Regions from separate parts of the Homo sapiens genome. Here region 2 is linked to region 1. The links come from fine-mapping of genetic effects on gene expression. A gene starts in region 1. The other region holds a variant in brackets. All regions are shown on one strand. Distances are from middle to middle.

What was found.
Region 2: its variant is fine-mapped to the expression of LINC01140 in spinal cord (GTEx, PIP 0.99).

What each region holds. Positions count from the first base shown.
Region 1 is chr1:87,127,257-87,131,650 of GRCh38, forward strand. LINC01140 (long intergenic non-protein coding RNA 1140) reads left to right here and starts at 2,509. Exons shown (of 3, transcript NR_026989.1): 1 at 2,509-2,738.
Region 2 is chr1:88,032,967-88,037,360 of GRCh38, forward strand. No RefSeq gene overlaps it. Among named protein-coding and RNA genes, the nearest start is that of LINC01773, 130 kb to the left of the region's middle. RefSeq lists enhancers at 2,120-3,319, 2,352-3,053. The variant G/A (reference allele first, on the strand shown) is at 2,290.

The DNA of each region.
Region 1 (4,394 bases):
TGCTTAAATTTGCTCCAGATTGAGACACAAACCAAAGGCGGCAAGAAACCCTGAAGGGGAGGTTTAATGATGAGCAACACATATAAAACCATCCGCACGCTTTCATCTGCCAAAGGCTCCAAACCAGCCATGTAAATGAGCCCATGTGCCCAGACCCGGACAGAGGCTGGCAATGGGCCTGGAAGAAACAGGACCTCCCTGGCTTCTCTCTCCTGGGGGTCTGTGTTTGGGTTGCATGGGGCACTGTGCCATTAGAGACACAGGGGCTTATCTACCTCATGGAGCAGCTGTAGTTAGAGGGAGTAGCTGGTAGTAGAGCAGAAAAGCAGCCTGGTGTCTTGGAAGCTGAGCCAGAGGTCAGGAGAAGTGGGTCACTGCTCTCTGGATGGAGTGATTGATCCAACCAGAGCCAACCAATACAGTTGTGCAGGTTACCTGGAGCCTGGGCCCAGTGGGTGCTGACATCCAGCTCATCTCCTACTCACCACGCCTTGCTCCTTGCTGTAGAGCTGCACCCACTATGAGGAGGGAGAACCTTTTTCTGACTTGAACAAGGGAGTCACATGGCCTTGCTTGGAGGCTGACAGTGTGCGTATGGCGTGAGTGGGAGGGATGGGGCTGCATTCTTCTTTTTCTTAGAACACAGAGGTGTTGTTTGGGCAAGTGGTAGCCTAGAACTGAACCAGTAGATACTGGGGATGCAAACCTGAACAAGACTCTCATTCAAAGAGCTCACAGTACCTTGAGGAAGCAGACAGATATACAGAGTATTCTAACACGTGGGGACAAGGTGTACAGGACATCTCTATGGGTACCCACCCAGATGGGACTGGACAGTGGGGAATCAGAAGCTTTCTTGGGGATGATGTCTAAATGAGTCTTGAAAAGTGGAAGGGGTTGGGATGAGGGTGTAAAGAGTGAGAAGGCACTGAAGGTAAACAGAACTGCAAGATCAAAATCATGGAGGATGAAGGAGCATGGTCCAAGAGCTCTCAGGGAAGACGTGGAGATCCTGTGGGGGCTCCCCACTTCATGTTGTTGCAGTTGAAGACATTTTCAAGTATGAGCAGTTATTCAAATATGAACTAAGCGGGTGATACCCATTCCCTTCCCCAGTGACCAAGACTGGAGGGCTTGAGAACTCCAAGTTCCCAGCATGATGCTTGGCGTTTGAATGCTACTTTCTTCCCCTTCCTCACTTCCTCCTGCCCTTTGATTTTTAATATGAAAACATTTTAATATGAAAACATAAAATATATACATCTGTGTATCTTTCATAACATTCAAAAAAGAGCTAAAAAATGTGAAGTGAAGGGTAATAGCATGATGCTTTGGCCATGGTCGGCTCCCCATGATTTTGTGTCCCCGCTTCTGGGCTGGCTTCTTACAGCGGATTGCAGCTGTGCCCCAGCAAGAAGCTGGCCTCTCTGGATCAATCACTCCAGAAGCGCAGAGGAAAGGGGAGCTTGCCTCAGTAAGCAAAAGTCACCATTATCTGATTATCTTTAGGGATTCCCTACTATCTGGATAGCTAGTCATGACTAGAGAAGATTCTGCATGGAGACAATATATCATTTATTTGGCTTTTATTTTTACTGAATTCAGTGCTCATGGAAAGTGGCACATTGACAACGCTGCTTCCTAGCATGACATCACATAAATAAGTTTGAAGATACTGCTTAATAAGAACCCTTTAAAGATAAGAGAAATGGTAGAAAGAATTGAAGGATGCTGTTTCCTTTTTAATATCTGCCATGAATCATAGTCCAGAGAGAAGACAGCCGAGGCATGCAGGGACAAGACACTAGCACAGGGGTCAGGAGATGGGCATTCACAGTGGGTACAGCTCAGATCCCTGCCTTTGCTTTGGCCTGAGGCTGGGCAGACAGGGACATGGAAAGCTATGGGGCTGGTCTGAAGGGTAGGGTGGGGTGGTTAAGCCTTTGCTGGCACATGGCTTTGCAATCTTGTACACTGAATAAATCCATCAGAGCACTGCATCCACTCACCCAATTAGCCTGCACCTCATGAACACCTATTGTGAGGCCAGCACCATGGGGAAACTGAAAGAACCAGATATTCTACCACCATGGAGGAATGACCTCACCCTGGGTAGTAACTCTTCCCTTCTGCTCATCTACCCAAAGGTAAAAGAAAGTGCAAGTTTCCTAGTTTACATTGTGTTTCTTGAGGGAGAAAAGGCTCTTGGTAAAACAATGCCTTATTCCTTTCGTTTGGAAGTTCTTTCTGCAGAATACAGCTCAACTGGGGGTCCCCAAAAGGCCCCTGAATAATTTAAAAAAAAAAAGAGGTGGTGTCAGGCAAGGGCTTTAGGACGTAGAAGGTCACTTTTGGTTGTTGTCCTGTTGATCCAACTGCTTTACTAACTGGAGCTATTGCTCAAGCTGGAGGGTGAGGGAATGGGTGGGGCTGAGGCTGGGAGTTGCTCAGTAGTTGACCCCAAGTGATCTTGTTTGAGGAAAACTCCTGTGATCCCCCATCAGAATATTTTGAAAGTGGAAGAGTCTGCTGGCGGGAAGGGAGAAGAGTGGGAGGAGGAAATAAGCAACAGGCAGCTTCCTTTCTTGACAGATGGAAAATAAAGGGCCTGTGCACAGCTCGGCGAACTGCTCCGTGGACCTCCCAGCGGGGCTGCTTTCTGAGGTGATGGTCTCCTCGCTCCTTAGCCAGCCTGGTGGAGCCAGCTACTGACGTTGGAAAGGAGTTGGAGGATGGAGGTTTGTGGCCGGCAAATGAGAGGTGTCGGGGAGGGAGAAGAGAAAAGCAAGCGGGCTGAGGAAAAATGTAAGGGAGGGAGATGGTTCTTCGATGAAACCTCTGGCCTCTTTTAAACCATAAAGAGGTCTGGCTGGTTTGATTCCAGTCCATAAAATGGCTCAGTAGGATCTTAGGGATTATTTAGCTCAAACCCCTGAGAGGTGAGGAAACTGAGGCCCAGAGGTCCCACTTGCCTTTGGTCATGGGGTGAGTATGTAGCCCAGCAGGGTCCCAGCTCCTGTGAGCTGCGATTCATGGTGTTATCTTTGCTGGGGAGGCCTGAAGTTCCTTTAGCTTGTCCATGTGAAACAGAGGAAGAGCCCACAAGGAACGCATTCATCTCAGAGTTAGGTGACCTTGGCTTTGGGATCTAGTTGCTCATTACTTCCACTTTCCTTGCCAACATCTTTCCTAAGCCTTCCAGATCAGGGCACAGTACCACTCCCTTGCTGCCAGACAGGTGGCCTGTCGTGTGGGCAGGAAGGGGAGTTCAAGGCAAGCAAGGCCCACTGTGAACCCCCTGCTAGAAGTGCTCTCCCCTTCCTTCTTTTGGAGGTGGCAGTTACTAGGCAGCATGACCCAGAGGAGGAGATAAGCTGCCTCTGATAGGAAGGTTTTATCTTTGAGGTTATTGCAAATATGCCTGACTTCTTCATCTGGTTCTGTCCGGATCTGAACTGGTAGCCAGATAAACTGTTGGCGGTCCCATTTCATGTATTTATCAAGTCTAAACAATTGTCAGGAGGCAATTATCCCCCAGGAAGCCAATGGCAGATAAATAGTGTCCCGCAGTCTGGTTCCAGCCATGGAATCTGTAAGTTGTCCCTCCTTGCCCTGTGCAGATTTTCTCCTCTGTCCCTGCTGCCCTAAATTTTAAAGGAGGTTTGATGTTCCAACACGTTTGCTTTGGTGTTCTTTGCCCACAGCCCCAAATAAAATCTAATGGTTTTTATAGGTGGATAAATCCTTTTTAAAGGCTCTTTTGTTATCACCATGGGGTTTGTGAGCACTAAAACTGGATTTTAAGGGATCAGTGAAACCTTAGAATCACGGTTTGCTGTATCTGGAAGGAACCATGACCACTTGGTACAGACCCTTCAAGCGGTAGATGAAGAGGCCAAAGCACGAAGGGATTTGATGGCTTGTGAAGGCAACGTGCTCTTCAGAGTCGGGCAGACGTGCAGCTGAAGCTTGGTCTGGCCACTGATCTGCTGCCCGGCCTTGGGTAAACTCCTGGAGCCCCTATTTCCTTATTGATTACATGGAGATACCAATCCAGACTGCACAGTATTGTGAGAGGTAGTAAAACTGTTTCCCTCTGGTCGAGGTCAAACAGACAACTGGGGGGCAGAGCTAATGCCAGAACCTTAGTATCCTGGCTCCCAGGTCTTTATCCTTTCCATTATTCTGCAGGAGGTCTTCAGGCTACTGTTAAATAAAAAGTAAAGCTTCTACTTCGTTCCACCCAAAATTCTAGTTCAGTGTTTCCCAGACAGAGCACCTCCAGCGGGTCTGAGGCTCAGTTCTATGTGGAGACTCATGTTTATACGATGACAGCATCTATATTTTTTCTGGATGAACTAATAATCGACTGGCCATTGTATTTAGGAAAAACC
Region 2 (4,394 bases), 910 kb after region 1:
TATAGTAATCAAGACAGCGTGGTATTGGCCTAAGTAGACATAGATAAAACAACAGAATAGAACTGGAAGTTCAGAAGTAAACTCTTATATTTATGGTAAATTGATTTTTCACAAGGGTTTCAAGTCAATTCAATAGGGGAAAAGAAATCTTTTCAAAAATTGGCACTGAGACTACTGGATATTTTCATGTAAAATAAAATGGAAATGAACCCCTATCTCACATTCCATTCAGAAATTAATTCGAAATGGATCATAGTCTACAATATAAGAGCTAAAACTATAAAACTCTTAGAAGAAAACAATAATGATAATTATTCATTGACCTTGGATTAGGTAATGGCTTCTTAAATATGACACCAAAAGTACAACTATGAAAAGAAAAAAAAATAGATAAATTGGACATCATTAAAATGTAAAAACTTGCATTTTCAAAAGACACCATTAATAAAGTGAAAAGACAGCCCATGGAATGGGGGAAAATATTTGCAAATCATTTATCTCCTAAGAACTTCTGTTCAAGACATACAAAGCACTCTTATAACTCAACAATAAAAATAAAAAATACTCCAATTTTTTAAAATGGGCAAAAGATTAGAATAGACATTTCTCCAAAGAAAATACATTAATGGTCAACAAGCACATAAAAAGATGGTTAACATTTCTAGTCAACAGAGAAATATAAGTTAAAACCACAATGTGACACACTTCACACTCACTATAGTGGATAACAAAAATAAAAAAGACAAATAATAAGAAGTGTTGCCAAAAATGTGAAGAAACTGAAGCCGTAATACATTGTTAAGAATGTAAAATACTGAAGCCTCTTTGGAATGTTTGACAGTTCCTACAAAAGTTAAGCAAAGATTTAACATATGACCTAGTCATCCCCCCACATAATTATATTCCAAGAGAAATGAAAATATATGTACATATAAATATTTGTACTGGGATGTTCATAGTATTCATAATAGCAAAACACTGGAAACAACCCAAATGTCCATCCACTGTTGTATAGGTAAAATGTGGCATATCTGTACAATGGAACGTTATCTGGCAATAAAAGTGAATGAATTACTAATACATGCACAACATAGATGAACATTGAAAACATTACGTTAAGGGAAAGAAGCCAGTCAAAAAAGCATATATTCTATGATTCCATTTCTATGACGTATTCAGGATAGGAAAATCCATATAGTCAGAAAGCAGTTTAGTGATTTCTAGCGGCTGCAAGGAGGGTGAATGGGGAATGACTGCTAATAGTCACAGAGTTTCTGTGTAGGGTGATGAAAATGTACTAAAACTAGATAATGGTGATTACTGTGTAACTGTGAATATAGTAAAAAACATGAATTGTATTCTTTAAAAGGATGAATGTTATGGTATGTGGATTTTATCTAAATAAAACTGTCTAAAAATTATTGAATTGCATGCTATCATTTTATTTTTTAAGAGATAGGGGTCTCACTACGTGGCCCAGGCTAGAGTACAGTGGCTATTCACAGGCATGATCATAGCACACTGTACAAGCCTCAAATTCCTGACTCAAGCAATTCTCCTGCCTCAGCCTCCCAAGCAGTTGGGACTTTAAGGACATGCTCAGCTCATCATATTTTAAGATTGATGGCATATAAGCTCAAGATAGCTTGAAGTGAGTTCTGGTTCCTAAAAGGCTGATCAAGCTCCTACTAGTCTGACATTCTTAAATACATCAACCACAACTCTAGATAATTACAAAAACAAACAACTTCAAAAAACGTGAACAAAACAAGACAGATGGTGGAGTGGACCATAAACTTGGAAAACGCGTCTTACATGCATTGAATTTTCTGTTTTAGGAATTTTAGCCTGAGGAAAAGCTGAAGTTGAATAAAGGAAACTCACACTTTCTCTGCTCTGAAGATCCAGAGGATTAAGTTCAGGAAAACCATAGCTGTTGAAGAGTAAGGGAGAAATATTAGAAATGAGAGATACTTCAAGCTGGAGAGGTACCAAGTTCTGTGATAGACTCAGCTTAAATTTCCTGCTGAGTCCTGAACCACATGTACCTGAGACAAACACAAAGCAGCACACATAAGGGTTAAAACAAATAAACAAACAAAACTAAAAAGAAAAGGAACTCTTAACTGGTATTTGAGCTGCTGCCCAAGGAACAGCATTTGTAATTTCAGTACAATCAGTTTAATTGCCTGTTACAATGAAAATATCAGTACTCGGTTAGGGCTTCAAGTTGGTTGACTAGAAGCAGCTATCATGTGCCGCTCTGACACAGAAAAGAAAAAGAGAGGC[G/A]TAAATACTAGATTTTCAACTTAAATATGCAGATGGACACCTTGGGATTAATCAAGGAATCAGCTCTACCGGTGGAGAATGGAGAGGAGCGAGACTGGACAACTGCCCATGGGGAGTGGCACAGAACCAGGGGAGGCTCCACCACAGCAGGGAATCAGTGAGTGAGTGAGCATCCCTGGCGACTCCTATTTCTGACACAGACCTTTGCAACCCTGGGCTCAAGAGATCCCCTCATGAACTCATCCCACCAGGGCCTTCAGACTGATATGAAGACCTATGTGGTGCTTATGCAGGATTTTTTGCTCCTTAGTTCAGCTAAATCCGGGTTCTTGTCTCAAGGACACATTGAAGAGTGAGGAGAGCGGAATTTATTAAGCAAAAGGAAAGCTCTCAACAAAGAGAGGGGTCCTGCACCCAAGCTTCCATCTCACAGAATTGAATGTCAGGCCACTACACGGGAGTTGAGGAGGCCAGGCTCCTCCCTGGCCAAAGGCGCGAATTCCTGGTGGCTCCACCCCATTCCCGGCAGTGCTCGAGGGGCATGCCCAGACAAGCTGCCTGTGCGGGTTCCCCATCTGCACAAAGCATCTGGTGTAAAGACTTGTAGGGTGGGTTGGAGATTCTACAGGGACCTTTCCCTATCTGCCTAGGCATTTGGCTGTCTTCTGCCTATATCAGTGCCTGGGCAGAGCTGCCACTAAGGCACATGTGGAGTCCCCAGAGCATTGGATCCCTGGGCATCCCAGCCTTAGCAGCTCCAGCTCCAGCAATGGGGTAAGTCGGGCTCCCTTGCATGCCCCCACGAAAAGGGCAAATCCAGGGGGCTGAGCAGTGATGGACTGCAGGCCTTTGCCTCCACTGAACCTCACAAAATAAAGCTCACTGGCCTAGGACGACAGGCACCCCCAGCTGGGGCTCTCAGGCCCATAGCAGCTCTGCACTTCTCTTGGACAGAGTGCGCAGCAGGTGAGGCAGGCTGCCATCTTTGCTATCTGGCAGCCCTTGCCGCTGTTGCCGTCAGGCTCTGGAGAGTGCCTGGTGACCTGGGACTGGAGCAGACCCCCAGCACAGTGCAGCCACCTCACAGAAAAGCAGCCAGACTGTTTTTCATGTGGGTCCTCAATCCCGCTTCTTCTCACTGGGCAGGACGTCCCAACCTGAGACTCTAACCGCCCTCCACTGGTAGCTGCTCTACATTTCCGTGGGTCAGAGCTCCCAGAGGGAGGGGCAGGCCACCATTTTTGCTACTTCACAGCCTTAGCTGCTGTTGCCTTCAGGCTCTGGAGAGTGTGCAATGATTAGAGGATGGTGCAGGGCCCCAGTACAGTGCAGCTGCTCCACAGAAAAGCAACCAGACTATTTTTTATGCAGGTCCTCAATTCTGCTTCTCACTGGCGGGACCTCCCAAGCTGGGATCCCAGCCACCCCTTGTGGGGGCTCTTGGGTGGCAGTTCTGTACTTCCCTGGGGCAGCACTCCCAGAGGGAGGGGCAGGCCACCATATTTGCCGTCTGGCAGCCCTCAGGCCCCGGAGGTTGTGCGGTGATTAGGGACTGGCGTGGATCCCTGGCACAGTGCAGCTGCCCTGTGGAATAGTGGCTGGGCTGTTCTCCACGTGGGTCCCCATCCCGACTTCTCCTTACTGGGTGGGGCCTCCTGACCGGAGACTCCAGCACAACAACCCTGCCCCTGCCTGAACACTTCAGTCAGAGGCAGCTCTGCAATTCTCTGAGGAGCAAATCCTAGAGACAATTCACAGCCCCTCGCCATTGCAGCTGCAGTGGTACCACCCTAACTCTCCTCATTCTGGGGAAGGAATCAAGGACCTAGTCGCTACACTGGCATCTCCAGCACACAGAAGCAACCACATGGAGAGGAGCCCAGTCTCTCTTCCCTGTGAGCCTTCACCCGTAACTCTTCACCAGGCAGGGCCACCAGCTCAGGAGTGCAGATTAGCTGCCCCACCCACAGCTGAGCATACCCACTAGTAGTGGCTCAGAGTTTACCTAGAGAGGGGCTCCCAGAGACAACTGACAGTCCCTCTGCCACTGCCACAGAAGTGGTTCTGCTCCTGTTGCCCTTGGTCTGGGGAAGAAACAAAGAGCC